Homo sapiens: one gene and its partner. The protein of the gene in region 2 interacts with the protein of the main gene of each other region in a biochemical or structural test. Each region holds a gene or a part of one and is shown on either strand. Other genes may lie near its edges.

Region 1 (7,000 bases), on a different chromosome or scaffold from region 2:
TGCCCAGGTGAAAATGGCCTATGTGAACTTCGTGAACCACTGCTACGTGGACACGGAGGTGGAGATGAAGGAGATCTACACCAGCAACCACATCTGGACGCTCTTTGAGAACTTCACCCTGGACATGGCCCGGGTCTGTCCCTGTGAGGGGTGTGGGTGAAGCCCCCCAGGAGGTGTGGGAGTGGAGGGGCCCCATGTGAGGAGCCCCCAGCCATCCCTCTCTCCTGCCTCAGGTCTGCAGCAAGCGTGAGAAGCGCGTGGCTGACCCCACCTTGGAGAAGTACGTGCTGAGCGTTGTGCTGGACACCATCAACGCCTTCTTCAGCTCCCCATTCTCTGAGAACAGCACTTCCCTGCAGGTGAGCTTCTCCTCTCCCACCACCCCAGGGCCGACTTGCCTAGCTTTTGTGAAGGGAAGGGGGGAAATAAGAATACATATTTATATTTGCTTATAGTACAGAAAGAAGTAACAAAAGGATACATAAGTGTATTGGTTATCTTTTTTTTTTTTTTTTTTGAGATGGAGTTTCACTCTGTCGCCCAGGCTGGAGTGCAGTGGCGCGATCTCTGCTTACTGCAAGCTCTGCCTCCTGGGTTCACGCCATTCTCCTGCCTCAGCCTCCCGAGTAGCTGGGACTACAGGTGCCCGCCACCACGCCCAGCTAATTTTTGCATTTTTAGTAGAGACAGGGTTTCACCGTGTTAGCCAGGATGGTCTCAATCTCCTGACCTCATGATCCGCCCACCTCGGCTTCCCAAAGTGCTGGGATTACAGGTGTGAACCACCGCGCCCGGCCTAAGTATATTAGTTATCTATACCGTGTTAACAAATTATCCCCAAACCTAGCAGTTAAAACAACAAGCATTCGCTATCTCAGTTTCTGTGGGCCAGAATGACGGTGGGAATGGTACCATCCAGCAGGAACTCCTAACTCCAGTGGGTGGGCGGATCCCGGAGTGGCAGCACTTATTCACCAAAGATAAGGCAGACGTGCCATCCATGGGATGGTACAGCCAAAGCAGGGATCACGACAGTCTCCCTGGCAGGATCCTTCGTGCTGGCTAGTTGATCATAGTGATCTTAGAACTGAAATAGGCAGGCAGCCTTCTGAAGGCCTAAGCAGAAGGGCTCCAGGCCAGTGTACAGAAGCCTGATTTGAATCTCGAAAGATTCATGGCTCCTTGGTCAATCCCCAGATTCCCAGACTCGAGCCAGTGCTCAGCCCAGAGCCCCCCTGAATGAAAGCGAGCCAGGTTCCCTTAAGGAAGGGCCCTGCTACATGACCGAAATCAAAGAAACACTGGAAGGATACAAAAGAAACCCACAAAAGGGGCTACCTAGGGGCATAGGAGCTGGGGTGGGGTGGGATCGTGCTTCTAAGTCTGGGGGGAAAAATGCTGAGTCCTGCCTTCTCAGGAAGGGTGGTGTATTTTGACACACATTGTTTGGGCCCTGGGATCGCATTGGGACGATGGAACTCTGGTAATTGATATCAGCTTTCCCCATCCTTGATCAGCTCCAGGGCAATGAGGGTGATGGGGGAGAGACTTCTCAAAGTGTTATGTTTTTTTTTTTTGAGACGGAGTCTCACTTGGTGCCCCAGGCTAGAGTGCAGTAGCACAACCTTGGCTCACTTGCAACCCCTGCCTCCCAGGTTCAAGCAATTCTCCAGCCTCAGCCTCCTGAGTAGCTGGGATTATAGGCACCCGCCACCACGCCCGGCTAATTTTTGTATTTTTAGTAGAGACAGGGTTTCACCATGTTGGCCAGGCTGGTCTCGAACTCCTGACCGCAAGTCATCCACCCACCTTGGCCTCCCAAAGTGCTGACATTACACGTGTGAGCCACTGCGCCCAGCCTCAAAGTGTTATCTTTTAAATAACCTTTTGGTTTTTCAACCATGTAAATCCATCACCTTTTTATGACATTAATTTTTTTAAACATTTTTTAAAAGGGTCAGCAACATGGCTATGAGCCCACGGCCTTGGTGAGTTACAGGGCTGCCGTGTACAGTTGGGCAGGTCGTGCACTGCTGAAGGGAATACAAGTACCTTTTTCCAACTGGCACAGAGGCACATGGTGGCTAGTGAAGGCTCCGTCTCTCCACCCATGCCCATTCTGATTGGGCCCTGGTTCCTGGACCTGGGGTTGCCCAGGGTGGGGGCCTGGGCTGCAGCAGCGGGCTCTGTGACTTCTTGCAGACACACCAGACGATTGTGGTGCAGCTGCTGCAGTCTACCACACGCCTCCTCGAGTGTCCGTGGCTACAGCAGCAGCACAAGGGCTCCGTGGAGGCCTGCATCCGGACCCTCGCCATGGTGGGTGAGTGTGCCGGGGCACTGGCCAGCCCCAAACCACTCCTCCTGCCGCTCACAGTGGGGACGCCTGCCCTCCTAATAAACACTTTATCCCTAAGCTCGCCCATCTCCTGCTCCCAGGTGGTTGTCAGTAAGTTCTTCTTGGCGTCTGCCTCATCCTGGCAATTGAGAGAAGCTGTTTTCTCCTCTGGGTCAGTTCCCCAGAGAAGGATGCTCGCCGACATTCTCCAGCTAGTTTTTTATGGGTATTTGCAGATGGGCTCAGGCAGGAGCAGGCCTGTGGATTGTTAGGGACAGTTGGGGAAGAAGAGAGGACAGGTGAGAGAGAGGAAGGGGAAGTCAGGGTAGAGCCGGGGGGAATCAAAGAGGCAGAAACTCCTTTTACCCAACAAGGGGAAGAAAGCCTCTCAGTCCCTCAAGCATAGGCCGGGGTGGGGGGGGTCTCTGTCTCCCAGACCCTTGGTCTAGTTCACTCTGTCTCCTGGTGTGGCAGCCCTGAGCCTGGCCTCTGGCTGGCTGAACTGCCCCCGCACCAGCACTCCAGCACTCCCTCCCTTCCCACCCAGCCAAGGGCCGGGCCATCTTGCTGCCCATGGACCTGGATGCCCACATCAGCTCGATGCTCAGCAGTGGAGCCAGCTGTGCAGCTGCCGCCCAGCGGAACGCCTCCAGCTACAAGGCAACCACGCGGGCCTTCCCCCGCGTCACCCCCACCGCCAACCAGTGGGACTACAAGAACATCATTGAGAAGCTGCAGGTGGGTGTGGGGCTGCCTGGCATCTGCCTCGGGAGCTGCTTGGTTGAGTCAGCAGCTCCCCTACTTTGGAGGGGCAAGTTCTCGGGGAGTGTTTCTTCCTGTCCTGCCCACACTTCCAGGAAGGGGCTGGTTGGCTTCTCTACACTCTGGGGCTGCTAAGGGCCGACCCAGCAGCAAGGGACTGGGGAACCTCCTTCCAGAGGAAGCCTGGAGAACCCAGAGGCCTGCTAGTGGGGTTGGAGCTCATGAGGGGGTCGGGACCACCCCTCACTCCTGCAGCGCCCTCCTGTCTATGCAGCACATTTCTGTGCGCTGTCTCGTTGGCCTGTAGAGGGGGTGTGGTGGATTATTTTCCCCACGTGGCAGGAGACTGAGGCTCAGAGAGGCTAAGGGGTTTGCCCAAGGTCACACAGAGCTGGGAGAGAAGCCAGGCTTGGCAGCTCCCAGCCAGGGCTCTGAGCAGACAGACATCACGCTGTGTTCAGGGTGTCTCTGTGGGTGTGGGCCCCTCAGACAGAGGCAGGGCAATCTGTGGGGCTGTTTGGCGTTTGGGTCGGAGGAATGGCAGTCACACCCGGGTCATTTCTTGGGCCTGGCAATGACTCTGCCCTGCCCACCCCAGGACATCATCACAGCCCTGGAGGAGCGGCTGAAGCCCCTGGTACAGGCTGAGCTGTCCGTGCTGGTGGATGTCCTGCACTGGCCTGAGCTGCTCTTCCTGGAGGGCAGTGAGGCCTACCAGCGCTGCGAGAGTGGGGGCTTCCTGTCCAAGTGAGCGAGACACTGGGGCATGGGGGCAGCAGGGGTGCAGCGGCAGGGGACAGAGAAGGGCCCGGTGGGGACTAGACAGGCTCACTGGGTCAGAGGGCCTGGGGGTGTTCCTGCCTGGGATGGGGTGGGGAAGTAGCTGGAGGGAGGCAGTGTGGGGCTGCCCTGAGCTGCCTCCTTGGCCGGCTCAGGCTGATCCAGCACACCAAGGACCTCATGGAGTCGGAGGAGAAGCTGTGCATCAAGGTGCTGCGGACCCTGCAGCAGATGCTGCTCAAGAAGACCAAGTACGGGGACCGGGTGAGTGCCCTGGTGGGGCAAGTGCTGGGTGGGCCAGTCAGGAGTACCCAGGGGCTCAGGGTCAAGCCCGTCAGGCCAGTGGTCAGTGGTGGGCTGTACCCACAATGGGGCCTCACTCCCATCCTCCCCCAGGGCAACCAGCTGCGCAAGATGCTGCTGCAAAACTACCTCCAGAACCGGAAGTCCACCTCGCGGGGGGACCTTCCCGACCCCATAGGCACTGGTCAGTATCACCTTCCCCTGCCCCCGGGCCCTCCCTTCCACTCTCCTGTCACACCAGCTCTCCCTCAACCGAGTCCCGCCTCCAGGCCTGGACCCAGACTGGTCGGCAATCGCAGCCACCCAGTGCCGGCTGGACAAGGAGGGGGCCACCAAGTTGGTATGCGACCTCATCACCAGCACCAAGAACGAGAAGATCTTCCAGGAGAGCATCGGCCTGGCCATCCACCTGCTGGATGGTGGCAACACAGAGATCCAGGTGTGGGGGGCCTGGGGCCTGGACATGCCCTCCTTTGCCTCCCTCCCTTTTTGGAGGAGGTGGGCCTTGAGTTGGGCACTGAAGGCCGAGGAGGGTGTGAAAGAGGAGAGGCCTGAGCAGTGGCTGAGAGGTGAGAAGAGTGGGCATGATGGGGGCAGGGTGGTGAGGAGACGGGCTCAGGCCTGGCTGGGGCAGAGGGGTATGCGGGGGTGATGAAAGGACCACGTGACACAGGAGCAGATATGGGGCATGGAGCCGCCCATGGGTGGCCATGGATGCTAGCCACCAGCACCCAGGCCTGCAGCCAGGCCCCTGCAGCCCCAGCGGCCCCAGCAGTGTGGTGTGCCTGCCCCACGCCCTGAGTAGGAGCAGGGCCCAGTGCTGAGGTTGTTCCCTGGCCACTGTCCACCTCCAGAAATCCTTCCACAACCTGATGATGAGTGACAAGAAGTCAGAGCGCTTCTTCAAGGTGCTGCACGACCGCATGAAGCGGGCCCAGCAGGAGACCAAGTCCACGGTGGCAGTCAACATGAATGACCTGGGCAGCCAGCCACATGAGGACCGCGAGCCAGTCGACCCCACCACCAAAGGTCAGGGGTCTGAGGCAGAGGCACGGCGTGACGGGGATCCCAGGATAAGATGTGCAGGGGGGTGGCCAAGGGGGTGGGCAGCTCCAGCCTCACCAGGTCTCGCCCACAGGCCGCGTGGCCTCCTTCTCGATACCTGGCTCCTCATCCCGCTACTCGCTGGGCCCCAGCCTGCGCCGGGGGCACGAGGTGAGCGAACGTGTGCAGAGCAGTGAGATGGGCACATCCGTGCTCATCATGCAGCCCATCCTGCGCTTTCTGCAGCTGCTGTGTGAGAACCACAACCGGGACCTGCAGGTGAGTGCCTCGCCACACACCTGCCCCTTCCCCCGCTGGCCAGCCGGCATGCAGACTAGGCAGTGTGGCTGGTGTCCCTCTATGGCAGGTGTGCCCTGCCCTGGGCACTGCTGCTTTGTGGCTGGTGGTTCCCCTACCCCTGCAGCACACAAGATCGTGCTTCCCAGGCCAGCCTCCCTCTCCGTGCTGTAGCTGTGCTGTGCCCAACCCTTCTGTGCCCCGCAGAACTTCCTGCGCTGTCAGAACAACAAAACCAACTACAACTTGGTATGCGAGACGCTGCAGTTCCTGGACATCATGTGCGGCAGCACCACGGGCGGCCTGGGGCTGCTGGGGCTCTACATCAATGAGGACAACGTGGGCCTCGTCATCCAGACCTTGGAGACCCTCACTGAGTACTGCCAGGGCCCCTGCCATGAGAACCAGGTGAGCTGTCCTGGTGGCATAAGTGGCAGCCAGGGTGGCAGTGTGGACATGTGGGTAGATGGAGCCAGCTGGGGCAGGGAGAGAGGCTGAGGTCTCTGGAGCTGCCACTATTCTGAGAGGGCCTGGGCCCTGTGTCCCCCACTGCCTCCTGCCAGACTTGCATTGTGACTCACGAGTCCAATGGCATAGACATCATCACCGCACTGATCCTCAATGACATCAGCCCCCTGTGCAAGTACCGCATGGATCTGGTGCTGCAGCTCAAGGTGGGGCCCAGTGGCAGGTGTGTGAGTGCTGGGTGTGCATGTGATGTGCATGCATGTATGTGTGACTTGTGTGTCAAGTGTACATAGTGGTGTGTAATGTGGGTGTTAGCATTGTGTGATGGGGCATCATCTGGATGCACAAGTGTGTGGTGTGTGCAGGGTGTGTGTGTAATATACGCATGTTTAAGCATGCTGGAACATACACTCACTCTGGATGCAAATATATTCTGGTTTAGCTGAGGACTTGCTATGTGTGTGTCTGCTGTCTGGGTAGCTGAGTGTTTGCCACAGCGGGGGTGAAGGCAAGCCTATGGGTGGGCTGGCTGTGCAGGATGCTTCTCATTAAGCCGGGGGGAGGGAGGATGGGAAGGTCATGGCACCTGACCTTTTGTTGGATGGGAGAGCTGTTATGGAGAGGAATGAGGGAGAAGTTGTCAGGGGCATGGTGTCCTGAGACTGTGGCCTGCCTCCCTCTGCCCCTCCACCCAGGACAATGCCTCCAAGCTGCTCCTGGCTCTGATGGAGAGCCGGCATGACAGTGAAAATGCTGAGCGAATCCTCATCAGCCTGCGGCCCCAGGAGCTGGTGAGGCTGGGCAGGTGGGCAGGCGGGCGGAACCAGGTGGAGTGTGTTGGGATGGGGATGAGGGCCCGGCTGGCCCTACCGCCCTAGGAAGAGAGCATTGGAACAGGCACTGCCCCTCCAGGTGGACGTCATCAAGAAGGCCTACCTGCAGGAGGAAGAGCGTGAGAACTCGGAGGTGAGCCCACGTGAAGTGGGCCATAACATCTATATCCTGGCG
Region 2 (16,583 bases):
TAAACTGTCTAGAGAAAAAAAATTATGCAATGTCTTCCTGGAGGCAAACATTTTGTTACAGAATAAATGTGGACTTTTAAGCACATCTGGCAATCATTCCACAACCTACAATGCTGGCACCCTAAAAATGCTTCACGATAATAATATGTTACCAGTAGAGTTGATTACTTCAAGCCAGGGGAGGTTTCAACACAAAACAGGTCATTTCCATGCAGAATACAGAGCTTCAAAGTCATCAGCTATGAGACCCACCATTAATCCAAGTGGTTGGGGGAGACGATTACTCCTAATAGAAGGGGAGCCAGATTTGAAGGTGGTTTTTACACGTGCTTTTCCCCTGGAAGAGCAAGCTTCCACACTGCAATCTTTCACCAAAGTCTAGGTCTTGGCTTTATGGTTATAGATGCCATTTCAAAGGGTATACTAGATTATAGGATTCTTTCTGCGTTCTAGACCACTACATATGTATAAGAAATCATTGTGTCGCACATGTTCTCTTTTATTGATTTCACTTACCATTCAATAAATATGTCTTGTTAAGAAAATCAGCCCTTTAATTTTATTTGGAAATACCTCGTACTGCTGCTGGACTGTCATGTTCTGATGTGACTGCCCCTTTGGGGTCAGAGAGTAAAGCCACACTTCTGTAGGTCAGTGGTGGTATCTTTGCTTAAAGGAGTAGACATATCTAATGTCAATCATCTAGGAAAGAAGGAGAATTTTAAAAAGAAATAAAGTTTGGAAAATAGATATTACACCAAAGAAAAAGGTTGTGGCGGGAGGTGGGGAGGCAGTCATTCTTCAGTCTGGGCTAGGACAAAGGACTAGATTGATTGAGGACGGTCTGCAGAGGGAAAACAAGAACGCTCGCTGCCAGATAGATAATGCTTGGGGCCAGGCAAGGGTCAATCCCCAGGAGACTCCATAAATGAGCTGGAAGAGCAGTTATAGCCAGCCAGGAGTTTTTCCCTTTTTATTAATTCTCTTTGGTAAAGATATAGCCTCGCCTCAGGTGTGCAGAGGGAACTTTAACGGAAGAGCCTCAGGCTAGAGAGCTAAAAGAAGAGTAGTATGCTGGTGGCAGTAGTGATTGGTGAAAGATTCCCTGAAAGATGAGTCTTTGTGACAGGCAGCTGGAATACAAGATATAGGTATCTCTTTTGATATGGACATTCACTCTTCTGCCCAACTTAGCTGATCCAGATGCTATTTCATTAAAGTAGCTGGCATCATTTTATTCCTTATTTGAATAAATATCAAGGAGGAGGAAATCTCTTTGTTGAGGAATAGATTAAATGGTACCTTCTCTCTGCTAGGCACTGTGTTAAGATAGGGGGATGAAGGACAGACCCACTTCTTGTGGCTTACATTCTAGTCAGAGGAAAAGGACGTGTGAACAAATAAATGTAAAAATGTGTAACAGATGTTTCAATGAACATAGTTGCCAAAAACAAGGGAGAGATAACAAGGATATAATAATTTAATATGATGCATAGGCCTGAGTCCATGTTCTTCAATCTTAAACTTCTTTAAGAGACTAGTTATCCTATTGGCAAGTAATATCAGGAAAGATTCTCTAGCCTACAGTCTGAATTTTTCATTCCCTTATTATCAATGTGTTCAATACTAACTTTTTTTGCCTGGAGAAAAGAAAACAATATGTGGGGGATTTTACTTGTGGTCTCTAACATTACATTACCTTTCTTAAACTGGGAATTCAAACTCTGGATCTTATTTTCATAAATGGGGTTCAGGTCACCCAAAACCCTCTTGAAGTCAATAAAAATTTTAAAGGATCTGTGACCCATTTTTTAAAAGTCATTTTTTGTTTTTTTCATGTGAGAGGATATAATTAAGAATCACTTTGAGTTTCCTCTAAGACTGTGATGCAATAAGTCACCTTTTAAAAATATTTAGTACATATCCATCGGAGACCTTATCAGCAATGGAGCACTGACTCCATTAATAACAAGAGAGTAAACCTTTTATGTAATGGAAAAGCCATAGTTCTTACAAGCTATACATTCTTTAACCAAGGTAATATCAAAATATATTATGAGTGCATTTCCACTGTAAATACTTTGAATTTTAAAACTCTCTCATTCAAATCTCTGTTTTCTTTAATTTTTAGTATTTCCTCTTGTCTTTGGTGTTCTGCAATTTAAATGATATGTTTAAATGGGGTTTTTTTTCTGTTTTACAATAATATTGGTATACTTCATAAACATGAAAATTCATTATTTCTGGAAAATCCTTACCCATTATCTATTCAAGTCTTGCCTCTCCCACTTCTATATGTTTTCTTTTCCTGGAACTCTTACCTTCTAGCTCCATTACTCTTAACGATGTTCATACAAAATATTTTTTATGTCTCTGCATTTTGGGTATTATCATCAATTATGTTCTAATCTGCATTTAGCCCTTCCATTAATTTTTTTTAAGAATTGTATTTTTTACTTATAGATGTTCTATTTGTCCTTTTCTTTAAAAATGTCATTTTTTTCTTAAGGTTTGATTTATTCTTTTATATTGTCAACATTTATATGTACTTTTAAAGATTCTTTTTCATGTGGTTGTATTATCTCAACTTTTTAAAAAATCCACTAACTACTGCATGTCTTATATCTACTCACTCATGGTCGATTGAGTCCATGGTCCACTGACTCTCACTCTTGGTCGATTGTTTCCTTGTGTGTTTTGTTATTCATTATAGCAAGCATATCTTTAGCAGGACTTGCTTTCTTCTTGAAAAGCCTAGGCAATCTAGATGCTTGATACTAGTCTTTCATAATGATTTTGTGTTTTACTCTTATAGGAACCTCAGGAGTATTTTCCATGTTGACTATTTCTAGGCTAGTTAGGTAGGGTATAAAAACAAAAACCCCAAAAACGATATTCTCAAGGGGAGTGTTCTTTTCTTCTTACTGTTAAAGTTTCCTGTTCTCACTGTATGCTGGTGGGCATATATTTCTAGCCTACATTTTTATTTAATGGCTTTATGCAGGGCACAGGGGTATCTCAGTTCCAGCTCTCTGCCTCATCTGGCACCAAGAGTTTACCTTCTTTCTGTCTCATATGGACATCAGATTCCAGGCTTCTTCGTCACTGGGACGCATAACTCACAGGGCAACCACATCATCACTTCACAATCTATACTCGCTTTTAATGTCTTTGTTCTTAGCACATGGTAGATTACCCTTTTATTTTTCACAAAATTGGGAGATGTTTTAAAATCATTTAAAATCTTTTATCCAGTACTGCCAGGTGTCTGTAACCATAAATTTTTCAGATTGTCTCAGTCAGCTGAATTGCCAGTGCTTTAGTTTACAGTTTACTGTTTCATTATTCATAATCAATCAATTACTCCTTCCCAAGCAGAAAGTTTAGTTGGACTGTGTTTTCAGATCCTGAGATTTTAGAAATGCTTAACTTTTTTAAATGTCTGGGATTCTTCCCCAAGTTCAGCAGTGATGAACTGTAAACATACCTTTAAAGTTCTAAATAAAGGAAATCTGAAATGCCTCCTGGGACCTTGGCAGGACATGGGCCTTTCTTGCTAATCACCATTACAAATTGATCACAATAGAGAATATTAATTGATTTGCTATTGAAAGTTGAATAAAGAGAAAATCTGAGCCATTTTCTTCTGAACACCATTTCAATTTATTACTATTTTAACTATTAAGGCCTTATTTAACTATTAAGGCCTTATTGCACATAATTGCTCACAAATAAGATAATTTACCATAATTTTCAGTTTTACTACTGAAAACTGAAGCCCCATAAATATAAATAAAAACTGAAGCCCCATTACTACTGAAGCCCCATTACTACTGAAGCCCCATAAATATATGTAAAAAATTTTTCTAAATAAGAAAACTATGAAACAGAAATTTTTGGCAAGAGTCATAGAATTTATTCCACAGAAATGACAACTTACAAAGACTTGGGATCTTATAAGGGAAAATCTCAATGATTTGAGAAATGGCAATATTCATATCTAAAATGTACTAGTGATTGCCACTTTCAGAAATGATACACCTCCCACTATGAAATTGTATAAATCACAAGTCAAAAGCATATGGAAGAGTTGATTTCTACTCTACCAGAGGGAGTAATTTTCTTTAGCTCTTTCTCATACATCATAGGTGTGAAGTACTTTTGTTTCTTGGTTAAAATTTTTCTGTTAGTTGATTATTCAACTAGAAAAACTTAAAATCTTGTCAGAGAAAACAGTGGATGAAATGTAACTATAGAACCTTTTGGAAATAATAGATTCATATAAAACCAAACCCAAATTCTAGAGCATGGCTCACTCTTACATGTATTATAGTACCTCTGACATCACGCAGAGGGTGGATGTTATGAATTGAAGCACATTAAAATATTTCTGTTCATCACTCTGCTGCTCAGTTCTATTTATTAAGAATAGTCCAGGATTCTTGAACTAAGGGAATATTCACTAAATACTGCATGTTGAGGACAGCCTGGGTAACATAGTGAGAACTTGTAGCTAAAAAATGTAATAACAATAATTAGACAAATTAGGCAGTAAGCCACATTTGAAGAAAGCACTGGGAAGAGTTTTCAGGACAACTTGGAATTATTACTTTATTTAGTCTCTCTCACTACTGATATATAACCACAAGGTTTTTAATCAAATCATTTTTTGACAGACACAGCGACAAGTGATTATATGGATTACAGAATGAAAAAAGGTTTTGTTCATGGAACAGTCTAATTTTTAAAAAGCCGTATAAATTTTTAGTCACCTAGTTTAGCCAGGAGGTAATGTTGCCAAACCTATAACCCTCAGACATCGGAGATCTCAAGTTTAACCAATAAAAATTCCATCTATGTCTTAAACTTACACCTTCAAAGTACATTTTAAAATAGCAGCATTTCAGAATATCCAAGATTTATTTATTTTTCTTTCTATTCTTGTTTTTTCTTGTCATATATCACCTTGCTATTCAGAGGGTGGTCCACGGACTAGCAACCTTGTCATCATCTGAGGGATGTCAGAAATGGAGAATCTTGGGCTGTACCTAAGACCTGCCTTCTCAAAATCTGCATTCTAACAAGATTTCCACATGATTTGCATGCTAGCCATTAAAGTTGGAAAAGTCTGTACTATGAGACATAAAAATATCTTCTAATTTAACACATCAAGTGTAAGATTTCTTTGAGGGATGATGAAATTGTCCTGGAATTAGATATTAGTGGTGGCTGTACAACTTTATGGATATATTAAAAATAGTGCATTGTACAAGTTAAATGGGGGAATTACGTGGTATGGGAATTATGTCTTGAACTTTTAAAAAGAAAAACATATACATAATTGTAAATGCTCTTAACTTGCACAGCACACAGATGAATGAAACCAGTTCTAACTATTCTCCTTTATCTTTGAGAAAAGTTAGATGCTCCCTTTACTGCGGCTCACCTCTTACTTCGAAAGGGCACCGCAGCAGGGCTTGAGGCTGGGCAGCCCTGACACAGCACCCATCTATCAGGAGGGTCTGCCAGGCGCCTATGGGGTGGAATCCTCCCTCCAACTAAAGCTGTTTATAGAGCTGAGAACCTCGGGAAACCGCTTGCGGGTGGATGTGACAAGTCAGGAAACTTGACTACCCAATCACCCAAAGGGGCAATGGGACAGAAATGCTATCTGCCCGCTGCACATGTGGTCACAGCGGTGTCGGGGAAGCGGAGTCTTTTCTTCTGGAGTCCACTCTGCTTACTCCCTACCTCCCCTCCCGCCACCCACCCAGCTAAAAAAAAAAATACCCTAGATTCATAAACAAAAGCTTGCAGTTACCCACAGCCCAATACAAACGACCCGACGCCCTCACTTCTATAGCCCGTGAGTCTCCCAGCCCCTAACAGGCTCGTCTCCCCAGACGCCCCGGGTGAAAAGGTTCGCGCCGCCGGTGGAGAGTCCTATTGGTTCTATTTCTGTCTTCACTCCAAGGCCCCAGGACCGGGGAGAGGTCCTGGTCTAACTTTGGCTGTCCCACGGTCCAAGGACCTCAGCGCTCAGCCCGAAACGCTAAGCCAAGCGTGGAGACCGCCGGGCGCACCCAGCACCCAGGCAGCTCCAACCCTTGGAGTTCTAGTCATCTCTCCCCCACATAGGCTAAGAGTCACCCGGGCGCACATCTGAATCAGCCCCCTGTTCAGATCCCGCCTGTTACGTAGCGATCCTGTCTCTTGTAGAGCGCAGGATGAAGGGGTCTGGAGAAATCGACCACCCATCTAATCACCTGCAATGGTGGTGTTACTATGCGGTCTCACTCTCGTGGGCAAACATATCCATGCGTACCTACGAGGAGCAAACCTAGACAACCCCGCCTCCCCCACTCCCCGCGCGCCCCTCCACTCACTCAGGTCCCAGCCCTGGCTCTCGCGGACCTCCCAGCACCGTCCTAGGAGGTACACACGCGGGTTCAGGACGCGCGCGGACGGACTCGGCCACTCCTGCGAGCGCACAACCTCCCTCCGCGCAGCCCGCGCCCGATCCGCCCCGCGTCGCCGGCACTCACAAGCAGGGGTAGTAGCCGTAGCAAGGCAGCGGGGCTTGCGGGCAGCCGTCTTCTCCCAGCTCCGAGTCCATGAGCAGATAGTCCTGGCTCTCGTTGCGCCGCGCAGCGGCTCCGGCAGCGCCCCGGGGAGAACTGCCCCTCCGGGGCCCGAACGCCGGGCTCTGGCTCATGGCGGGAACGCCCGACTGGCCTGGGCCCCGCTCCCGGGGGAGCCGAGTGGGCAGTTCCAGCGGGGACCCGGTGCGGAGGGTTCGCGTCAGCGGCCGAACTGGACCTGGGCAGACCGGTGCCCAGGGGACGACGGTGAAGCAGGGGGTGCAGACGCCCGCCGCAAGTGGCTCGCCCACTGGCCCGGGGAAAAGTCACCACTTAAGGGGGTGCAAAGAGGATCTTGACCTGAGCAGGTCAGGCCGAGGAGACCCCGCGAGGATGCGTCTGGGGCGCCCGGGCAGAGAGGGCACAGGCGGGGCCGCTGGTGGTAGCGAAGCGTAAGAGCGGAGAGCAAGGGAGACGGAGCTGAAGAGTTACTATGTCAACAGAGACTCTCCAGCCCTCAGCTCCCGCCTTCATCCCCCGCACTCTCCGTCAAGATCCCCACCTTTAAAGGGATCCGAGCGACGTTCTAGAAAGCAGCCAAAGCCTGTCCTGTAGCCACAACTTTCAGGAGGCGGTATGAGCCTGAACTAGGAGGAGCCAGGCACGCACTCTTTTTTTCCCCTCCACTATTTAGTTGGCTCATTTAGTAAGGATACCAACTGCGGACTTCGTAGGAAGCTTCCTTTAAGAACCACTCTCAAAGAGCCAAGGAAACCTGTTCCTTAAAAGGGACACGAGCCTCTTCTTTCTCCAGACTGCCTTCATTTTCTTTGGTCATTTTCTCTCTTACCCTCAACTCATAAAGTTATTATGACTCTGCTTTAAAAATGAACAACGTTCTATGTTCCAAACGCCAGATGTTCCCAGTTCCTGAGAAAACCAACAAAAATAGGCAAGCATTTTCCAATGATACCGATAAAGAGGCCAACAACCTGCTTACTTCAGAGAAAAAATTTTCCTTCCGTCACTGCGAATGCAAGAATGATTTCTCTGCCAGATGTTTCCCACGTTTCCAAGCTGTTTTATTTTTAAGACTTAGTTTTAAATTCTGATTAATATGCATACGTGTGAGAAGTAAAAACTTGTCAACAAGGATGAATCAGTATTTGTAGACCTTTAAGCAGTAGTAGCCAATTAAGAATCCATTCATTAAGTCAACAAATATTTAATGAATGCCAACTGCGTTTCAAATCATTTCAGAATTCGGAGGCAAAGAAGCAGATGAGGCACCTGTCTGCCCTCATAGAGCTTTCGTGGCAGAAAGGGGGACCAATTAAATAAGCAAATGAAAAAATATCAAGGACAAATGCTACAATGAAAATAAAACAGGTTGATGTGATGGCAGCTGGTGAATGACTACTTCAGATGAGATGGTTAAAAGAGGCCCCTCCAAGGAGGTGCTCGTTAAGTTGAGACATGCATGGCAAGCAGCCAGCCATGAAAAGATCAGAGGCCCATTGCAATTGGATGAAAGAAAGCCAGACTGAAATCTGTCTGCAAAGGTGCCTTTGCTTCCCATGAACAGGTGGACAACAAAATGAATGTTGGAAGTGTGGGAAAATGCAATTGATTTGATAGAAGGGAAAAGAGCTCACACATTTAGAAACTTCTGAGTTTGCCTTTAAATTTAGAACTGAAACTCAGAGAGAGCAGAAACCACTGTGTCCTGAGGATCCAGCTTCGTATTTGACACAGGTGTGTAGGGTGCATGCATGCATGCTTGGGTGGGTGAGTGGGTGGGTGGGTGGATGGATGGATGGATGGACGGATGGATGGATGGATGGATGGAAGGAATATAGAAAAAATAAGAAAATGCTCTTGGCCCTGGAAAGAACATTTTCCCTGGGGAAACAAACAACCTGCATCATTCTGAAGTCTGTTCTTTCTGATTTAACAGCCTTCCTTTTTGATCTTTCAACATGTGGAGCCATGATTTAAAATTCTTATAATTTTCTAGTTACTATACCTAGCAATAAGATATTCTTCCTAAAATTTGTTTGTGGCAACTGCTATCTGTAAGTATTCATTAGCTTTGATGCTTGAATGAATTAATCAATAAACGTTTAGTTAAACAGTGCCAAGGTAATCTCTTTGGCAACACCAAGTATGGGGAAAACATTCATGGGAAAAGTAATATTCAAAGGTTTTCTACCCAATTCAAATTCTGTGAGTTAAAGCCAAATTAATAAACATTTGTAGTGTCAGTTGAAGTGTTAACCTTTCACATAAAAAGAAAAAAAACAAAAACTGAGACAGAATTTATTTTGCTGTTGTTACACTGTTTTTCATTCACAGGTAACAACCTTCACACTGAAAAAATTACTACAGTAAACTTATTCTGACATCAATTTATCATGTGGTAAGACATGTTTTCCTCTGTTTTTTTTTTTTTTTTTGAATTATTGTGAGTACTAGAACAACAAGCCCAGTCATTTATTGAGTACCCAGAAGGAATAAGGTGGTGTACAAATGTTAGAAGATTCTGAAAGAGCTTATGACATGATGAAGTGGAATCATTAGATCAGAAGTCTCAAAGCCTGGATTTTTATTTCGGCCACTTCCCTAACTGAAGTTACATGATTTCAGAGAGGTCATTAAATCTCTCTCTGCCTCAGTTTTTTCATCAGTAAGCTGGTATACAATTACGCCTCAATCTCTAACTTCCCACATTATATAGTTATCTATGCAGTTTTATCACTTTACATTAAAAACATGGTGAAACCAATTTTTAAAAAGACAAAATACGATTAAATAATATAATTTTTGAATCAACTATGGAAGTATTGAGTAGATCTGGAGTCATGAAGAAAGCTGAGTGAACAAAGAAACAATAGTTTTTAAAGTTAAAAAATTGTTGGGTGAGCACAGGACTGATAGTTCTCACAGAGTTGGAAATTGCTATGCAATTATAGGTTATGTATGTTTATGTAGTATGTTCATGCTATTGAAATAAAAAAACACTCAGTCATTAATTCTGAGATGTGAGGATGAAGGTGAGTTATGTGTCTCTGTGGGCAGAGGAAGAGATGTTAATGAGAGAGGACCTTTGCCTCATTATATATATCTGCACTGTTTGATTATTAGTTTGATTTTACAAAAACAGATATTTTACATATATACATGTGTGTAATATATATAATGTGTATATATATTATACATATAATATATATATAACACAGTGTTTTGAAAAGCTGATAGGAGAAAAATGAGTAAAGAAAAATGGTTGTCCTCTAGAACAGTGGTCCCCAACTTTTTTGGCACCAGGGACTAGTTTCGTGGAAGACAATTTTTCCACGGACCTGTGGGGTGGGATGGATGGTTTGGAGACTATTTAAGTACATTAAATTTATTGTGCACTTTATTTCTATTATAATTACATTGTTTTATATATAATGAAATAATTATACAACTTACCATAATGTAGACTTGATAGGATCCCTGAGCTTGTTTTCCTGCAACTAGATGGTCCCATCTGGGGGTGATGGGAGACAGTGACAGATCATCAGGCATTAGATTCTTACAAGGAGCACACAACCTAGATTGCTCACATGCACAGTTCACAATAGGGTTCATGCTCCTAGGAGAATCTCATGCCTCCGCTGATCTCACAGGAGGCAAAGCTCAGGCGGTAACGCAAGTGATGGGAAAAAGCTGTAAATACTAAATACAGGTGAAGCTTCGCTGGCTTGCCCACTGCTCACCTCCTGCTGTGTGGCCCAGATCCTAATAGGCCACAGATGGATAGCAGTCCATAGCCTGGGGGTTGGGAACCGCTGCTCTAGGAAGTCTCAGGCAAGGAGCCCAAAGGGAAAGGAAAAGAAATTGCCACTAGAAGCAAAAGGTTGAGAAAACATTAAATGCTTAATAACTCAAGAAGCTCAAAAGTTACACAAAGCTGCAGTTTGTGAGTTGCTGTTGCTGATGGAAAACCACTAACATAGGAGTCTCTCTGGAAAATGCAGTTTGGGGTTGGTTGGCCAGAAGTACAGATAAAAGTTTAGTCGTGATTTCATCTGGATATTTTAAAGCATGGAAACCCTGAGCCCTGACTCCTATCACATGTAGAATCAACCGGGTGAAAACAGAAACACTTCAGAAGCTTCAGAGGGGCTGCTGATTCTCTATGAATGAAAGTGCCCTGCAAACTCCAGTTTGAGTAAAATCTGAGCAGGTGCTGCTATATCTTTGAACCTCAATTTCTTAATTTTTAAAATAAAGGGGTTATAATACTTTACATTTAGTATCTGTCTTGCAGCTAAAATGTTATTAACCATCAGAAACAAATAGAAGAATCTACAGATTGCTAATTTCATTTTTGCTCTAATTTGAGCTTGACATAGATGTTGTCCAAAATTCTAACATTATCATATGGTTATTTTGTAAGCACTTGTGATTAATATGGTTTCACTTAGAGAACAAGTTATGTTAATATCTCTTTTGATGGAATTATTGGGACATTTTTAGTAAACTGTTTACCAAGAGCATCGTGTGATATGTTTGACAGCACGATTGAAAAATAAGAACTGGGTAACAAAGGAGTGATTCATAAATAGTTAGAAGACGATTGAAAAGATTGTTGATTTATACATCAATGTCACCCAAGTTTAGTAAATGAAGACATACCAAGAATGGACTGAGCTGCTTTTGGTTTTTTGTTTTGGCTTGTTTTTGCTGGTTTTTGTTTTGTTTTGTTTTTGTTTTTGTTTTCTTTCACTGGACATGTTCAAATACAACCTGGACCTCAATTTTCCACGTATACTACAAGGAAAATTAATATACTTATGGAAAATTAAGTGAACACTAAGATCCTGTAAGAAAAAATCTAAAATTCAAAAACTAATCATCATCTCCATGGATCCAAAAAGTTAATAAAATATCTATTCTTCATTTTTTAAAAGGAAATAAGAAAAAGCTTAGAAAACTAAGAGTAACAGACACATTTTTAACATGGCAGAGAAAACTATTTTAGATAAAAACAACATGGAGAAACACCAGAGATGTTTCCATTAATTTAAGAAATCAAAGATGTTTGTCATTATCATTACTATTTTTCATAGCTAAGAACTTCAACAATAAGTAAAATAAAACATAAAAAATAAGATGAAAAAGTTTGAAATGAGGACATAAATCTATTACTTCACAGGCTATATAATAGTCTACTATAAAAAATTCAAGATTTTTAGCTAAAAATAGTTAGATTCAGAAGTAAGAAATGTGTTTGGTACAATGCCAGATAATAAAAGTAAATATTAAAAATTCAGTAGTTTTCCTTTATATCAGCAATAGCCAAAATATAATAAAAGCTATAAAATATAATATAAGCAGAAATATATTTAACAGAGAATTGTAAAACCTATGAAAAGAAAATTATAAATCTTCACTAAGACCTAATTGAAAAATAATCAGAGGTCTGTATCAAATTATATAACACATTTTATTGATAGTTTCATTATACTTGTATTAAATTTACAGATTTAGTTAGAATGTAGTAGTTTCAATACTTATGTCTTCCTATAGAAGGACAGGTTTTTCTCTACTATTTATTTTTTCACATTTCTAAAAATAAATATCTAAAAGAAAGAAAAATCCAAAAAAAGAAAAGCAATGAAAGAAACTTGGTGTAAAAAATATCGAATGATTTAAAGAAACCACAAAAATAATATAAATTGGTACACACAAACTAGAAATATGTAAAGAATTTAATGGAAAGAATAAAGGATACAAAAGATTTTATGGTATGATAAAGAGCACATCTTAAGTCAATGGGAGATGTGAAGGAATGTGGAATAAATCAAACTGGATAAGAGATTTCTATCTTGTACTTTTGCCACAAATGGTATGCGTTAATAAGTCAAATGTAATTAAAGAAGTTGTAAAACCTACTAAACAAAGATAATCAACACGTTTAAGAAGATCGCGCCACTGCACTCCAGCCTGGGCAACAGAGTGAGACTGTCTCAAAAAAAAAGAAAAGAAAAGAAAAGATTAATATCAAGTATCTTTCTTGGCCACAATGGCATGAAACTAGAAATAAATAACAGGAAGGAGACTGGAAAATTCACAAGTATTTGGAAATTTTAAAACATGCTTCTGAACAACCAATGGATCACAGAAGAAATCAAAGGGAAAATAAAAAAATATATTGAGACAAATGATATATAAACACAACTTACTAAATTATGGGAAGCAGCAAAGCAGTTCTAAGAGAAAAGTTTGTAGCAATAAACACCTACATTAAAAAAGAAGAAAACCCTCCAATAAACAACCTAACATCATTTCTCAAAAAAAAAAAAAAAAAAAAACTAGAAAAAAAAGAACAATCTAAGTCCAGAGCTAGTAGAAGGAGGAAATAACAAAGATCAAAGAAAAAATAAATAAAATAGAGACTTAGAAAGCAATATGAAAGAGCAACAAAATTAAAAGGGGATCTTTGAAAAGATAAAATTGATAAACCTTTATCTAGGCTAATAAAAAATGAAAGAAGACTCTAAAATGAGAAACGAAAAGGGAGACATTACAACTTATACAGAAATACAAAGAACCTTAGAAGACTATTACAAATAACTATACACCAACAAATTGGATAGTTTAGAAGAAATAAATTCCTAGAAACTTACCATCAGCCAAGACTAAACTATGAAGAAATAGCATATCTGAACAGACCAATCACAAGTAGGAAGATTGAATCAGTAATCAAAAATATTTTTCAAAGAAAAGCCCAGGACCTGATGTCTTCACTGGTGAATTCTACCAAACATTTAAAGAAGAATTAGTACCAATCTTTCTCAAATTACTTCAAAAAACTGAAGCAGGCGAAATACTTCTAAGCTCATTTTATGAGTCTGACATTACCCTGATTCCAAAGCCAGACAAAGGCATTACAAGAAAAGAAAGTTATAATATCCTCAATGACATTGATGCAAAAATCCTCAGCAACATGCTAGCAAACTGAATTCAACAATACATTAAAAGGATGGTACACCATGATCAAGTGGCATTTTTCCCTGGAATGTGGGATGGTTCAACATGTGCAAATCCATAAACATGATATACCACATTAACAGAATAAGGCACAAAACCCACCTGATCTCAATAGTTAAAGAAAAAGCAGTTTACAAATCTCAACATCCTTTCATGATAAAAACCCTTAACAAACTAGATATAGAAGCAATGTACATCACACAATACAGGCTATATATGACAGGCCCACAACTAATATCATATTGAGTGGTAAAAAGTTGAAATCTTTTCCTCTAAATCAGGAGCAAGACAAGGATGTCCACTCTTCCTGCTTCTATTCAATATAGTATAATGGAAATTCTAGCCGGAGCAATTAGGCAAGAGAAAGAAATAAAAAGCATACAAATTAGAAAGGAAAAAGTTAAATTGTTCCTGTTTGTAGATGACATAATCTTATAGTTAGAAAATATTAATGACTCCACCAAAAAAAACCACTTAAACCTAATAAACAATACAGTAAAGTTGCAGGATACAAAATCAACATACAATAGTCAATTGCATTTATATTAAAAAAACAAACTATCCAAAAAATGAAATCAAGAAAACAATCCCATTTACAATAGTTAAAAAAAAAACTTAGGAATAAATTTAACAAAGAAGGCAAAAGACTTTGACACTGAAAACTATAAAACACTGAAGAATGAAAGTAAAGAAGACATGGATAAATGGAAAGATACTTCATGTTCAGGGATTAGAAGAATTAATATTGTTAAAATGTTTATACTCCCCCAAAGTTATCTACAGATTCTCTCCATCAAAATTCCAGTGACATTTTCCCAGAAATAAAAAGAATTCTAAAGCATTCATGGAACCACAAAAATCCCTGTGATGGTTAACTTTGGACTTGACTTGATTAAGGCATACTCAGATAGCAGGTAAGGCGTTATTCTTAATGTTTCAGAAGGAACTGATCCCTCTTTTGCTAAAAGGGAAGTCCAGGTAGTTGTGGTTTTGATTAGATGATCGGGCTATCCTAGGTGTGTCTGTGTGGATGTTTCCAGAAGAGATTAGCATGTGAGTTGGTGGTCTGAGTGGGGAAGATCCACCCTCGATGTGAGTGGGCATCATCCAATCAGTTTTGGGCCCTAATGGAGCAAAGGCAGAGTAAGGGAGAATTCTCACTTTCCCTCCCTGAGACAGGACACCTTCTTCTCCTGCCCTTGGATGTCAGAACTCCAGGTGGTCTGGTCTTTGAACTCCAGGACTCATACCAGTAGCCCTCAGGCTCTCCAGCAATCAGGATTGAAAATCACACCACAGCTTTGTTGGTTCTGCAGTTTGGACTTGGACTGAGACACATTACTCTCTTTCCCGGTTCTCCCACTTGATAAAGATGGTCTGCAAGATTTCTCAACTTCCAAAATAAAGTGAGCCAATTCTAATAAATCCTTTTTCATATATCTCTCTATAAATTATATTGGCTCTGTCTCTTTGGAGACAGAAACAACCCCAAATAGTCAAAGCAATCCTGAAGAAAAAGAACAAAACTAGAGGTATCACACTACCTGATCTCAAAATCTGCTATAAAACTATAGTAATCAACACAGCATGGTACTGACATAAAAACAGACACCCAGACCAATGGAACAGAATAGACAGCACAGAAATAATAATAATAATATATATAATATAATAAGAGTAATAATCTGTGAAGAATAAATATATATACACAAATATGTATAAATACATAAAATTCATATTCATGAATGCATGGTTAGTGAATGAAAACTTTTTTCTTTTTCTGCCATTCATTCATTATCCGTGGATTCATGGACAGATATTTGATTGAAGTGGTTATTATCCATTATCATCATAATTTATTTTGCTGCTCAAATGATTCTAGATTTGGCACTTTTGATCAGCCTCTGAAAATCCCTCCATATCAGTTTATAGAGATCCTCTTCAATCTTTTTTTAAATTGATGTATTGTTGTATAAATCCATTGTGTAAATCAAGGATTTACAAATTAAGGCCCACAGGCAAAATCTGACCCACCATTTGTTTTTGTAAATGATCTTTGATTGATGTGCCATGCACAATTGTTTGTATGTTTTTTTATGTCTGCTTTTGGATTACGACCACAGAGTTCAGTAATTGAAATAGAGACTGTGTGGGCCAAAAATTCCTCCCTCGTTTTTAAGAAAATTTTGCTGTCCCTTAGTGAAAATTAATCATAATTTGTTCAAACAATAACCAATGTGTGGATATTGAAACTGTACTCAATATTTTTAACTATTAATAATGCCATAATGAATAGTCTTGTGCATGTGTGTTTTCATATTATTGGAGATTGATATGGTTTTGCTGTGTCCCCACCCACATCTTATCTTGAATTGTAGCTCCCATAATTCCCACATGTCACGGGAGGGACCTGGTTGGAGGTAATTGAATCATGGGGGAGGGTCTTTCCTGTGCTGTTCTCATGATAGTGAGTAAGGCTCACAAGACCTGATGGTTTTATAAAGGGGGAGTTCCCCTGCACACGCTCGCTCTTGCCTGCCTCCATGCAAGATGTGGCTTTGCTCCTCTTTTGCCTTCTCCTATGATTGTGATTCCCACACATGTGGAACTGTGAGTCCATTAAACTTCTTTCTTCATAAATTACCCAGTATGTCTTTATTAGCAGTGTGAGATCAGACTAATACAGAGGTACATCTCTAGTATGAATTCCTAGAAGTGGAATTGATGGCTCAAAAGCAAGCACAGAGTTACTTGAATCTGAAAACCTGTGCCTAACTAAACTTGGATAAAAATTTTGGTGATTATAAGTTCAAATATCTTATTCTGGCCCAATCTCTTGTCTCTTTCTCAGACTCCTAATAAACACATGTGTGTTATTTGTTTAGTTTATTTCAGTGTTATTTTTCTGGTTCTTCTTTGTATTATATATTTTCTATTGGTCCATCTTTAAATTCTCTGTTC

The links.
Region 1: the proteins of TRPC6 (region 2) and ITPR3 form a complex in vitro, tested with the Homo sapiens proteins (one study listed by BioGRID).

What each region holds. Positions count from the first base shown.
Region 1 is NC_000006.12:33,680,322-33,687,321, forward strand, and holds part of ITPR3 (inositol 1,4,5-trisphosphate-gated calcium channel ITPR3), read left to right. Parts: intron 1-7; coding exon 8-133; intron 134-233; coding exon 234-359; intron 360-2,202; coding exon 2,203-2,323; intron 2,324-2,885; coding exon 2,886-3,076; intron 3,077-3,698; coding exon 3,699-3,847; intron 3,848-4,035; coding exon 4,036-4,144; intron 4,145-4,276; coding exon 4,277-4,367; intron 4,368-4,452; coding exon 4,453-4,622; intron 4,623-5,037; coding exon 5,038-5,212; intron 5,213-5,321; coding exon 5,322-5,506; intron 5,507-5,731; coding exon 5,732-5,932; intron 5,933-6,087; coding exon 6,088-6,198; intron 6,199-6,687; coding exon 6,688-6,783; intron 6,784-6,904; coding exon 6,905-7,000.
Region 2 is NC_000011.10:101,576,789-101,593,371, forward strand, and holds the start of TRPC6 (short transient receptor potential channel 6), read right to left. Parts: upstream 7,220-16,583; 5' UTR 6,716-7,219; coding exon 6,546-6,715; intron 6,480-6,545; exon of another isoform or gene 6,387-6,479; intron 1-6,386. UniProt on the Homo sapiens protein: Forms a receptor-activated non-selective calcium permeant cation channel. Probably is operated by a phosphatidylinositol second messenger system activated by receptor tyrosine kinases or G-protein coupled receptors.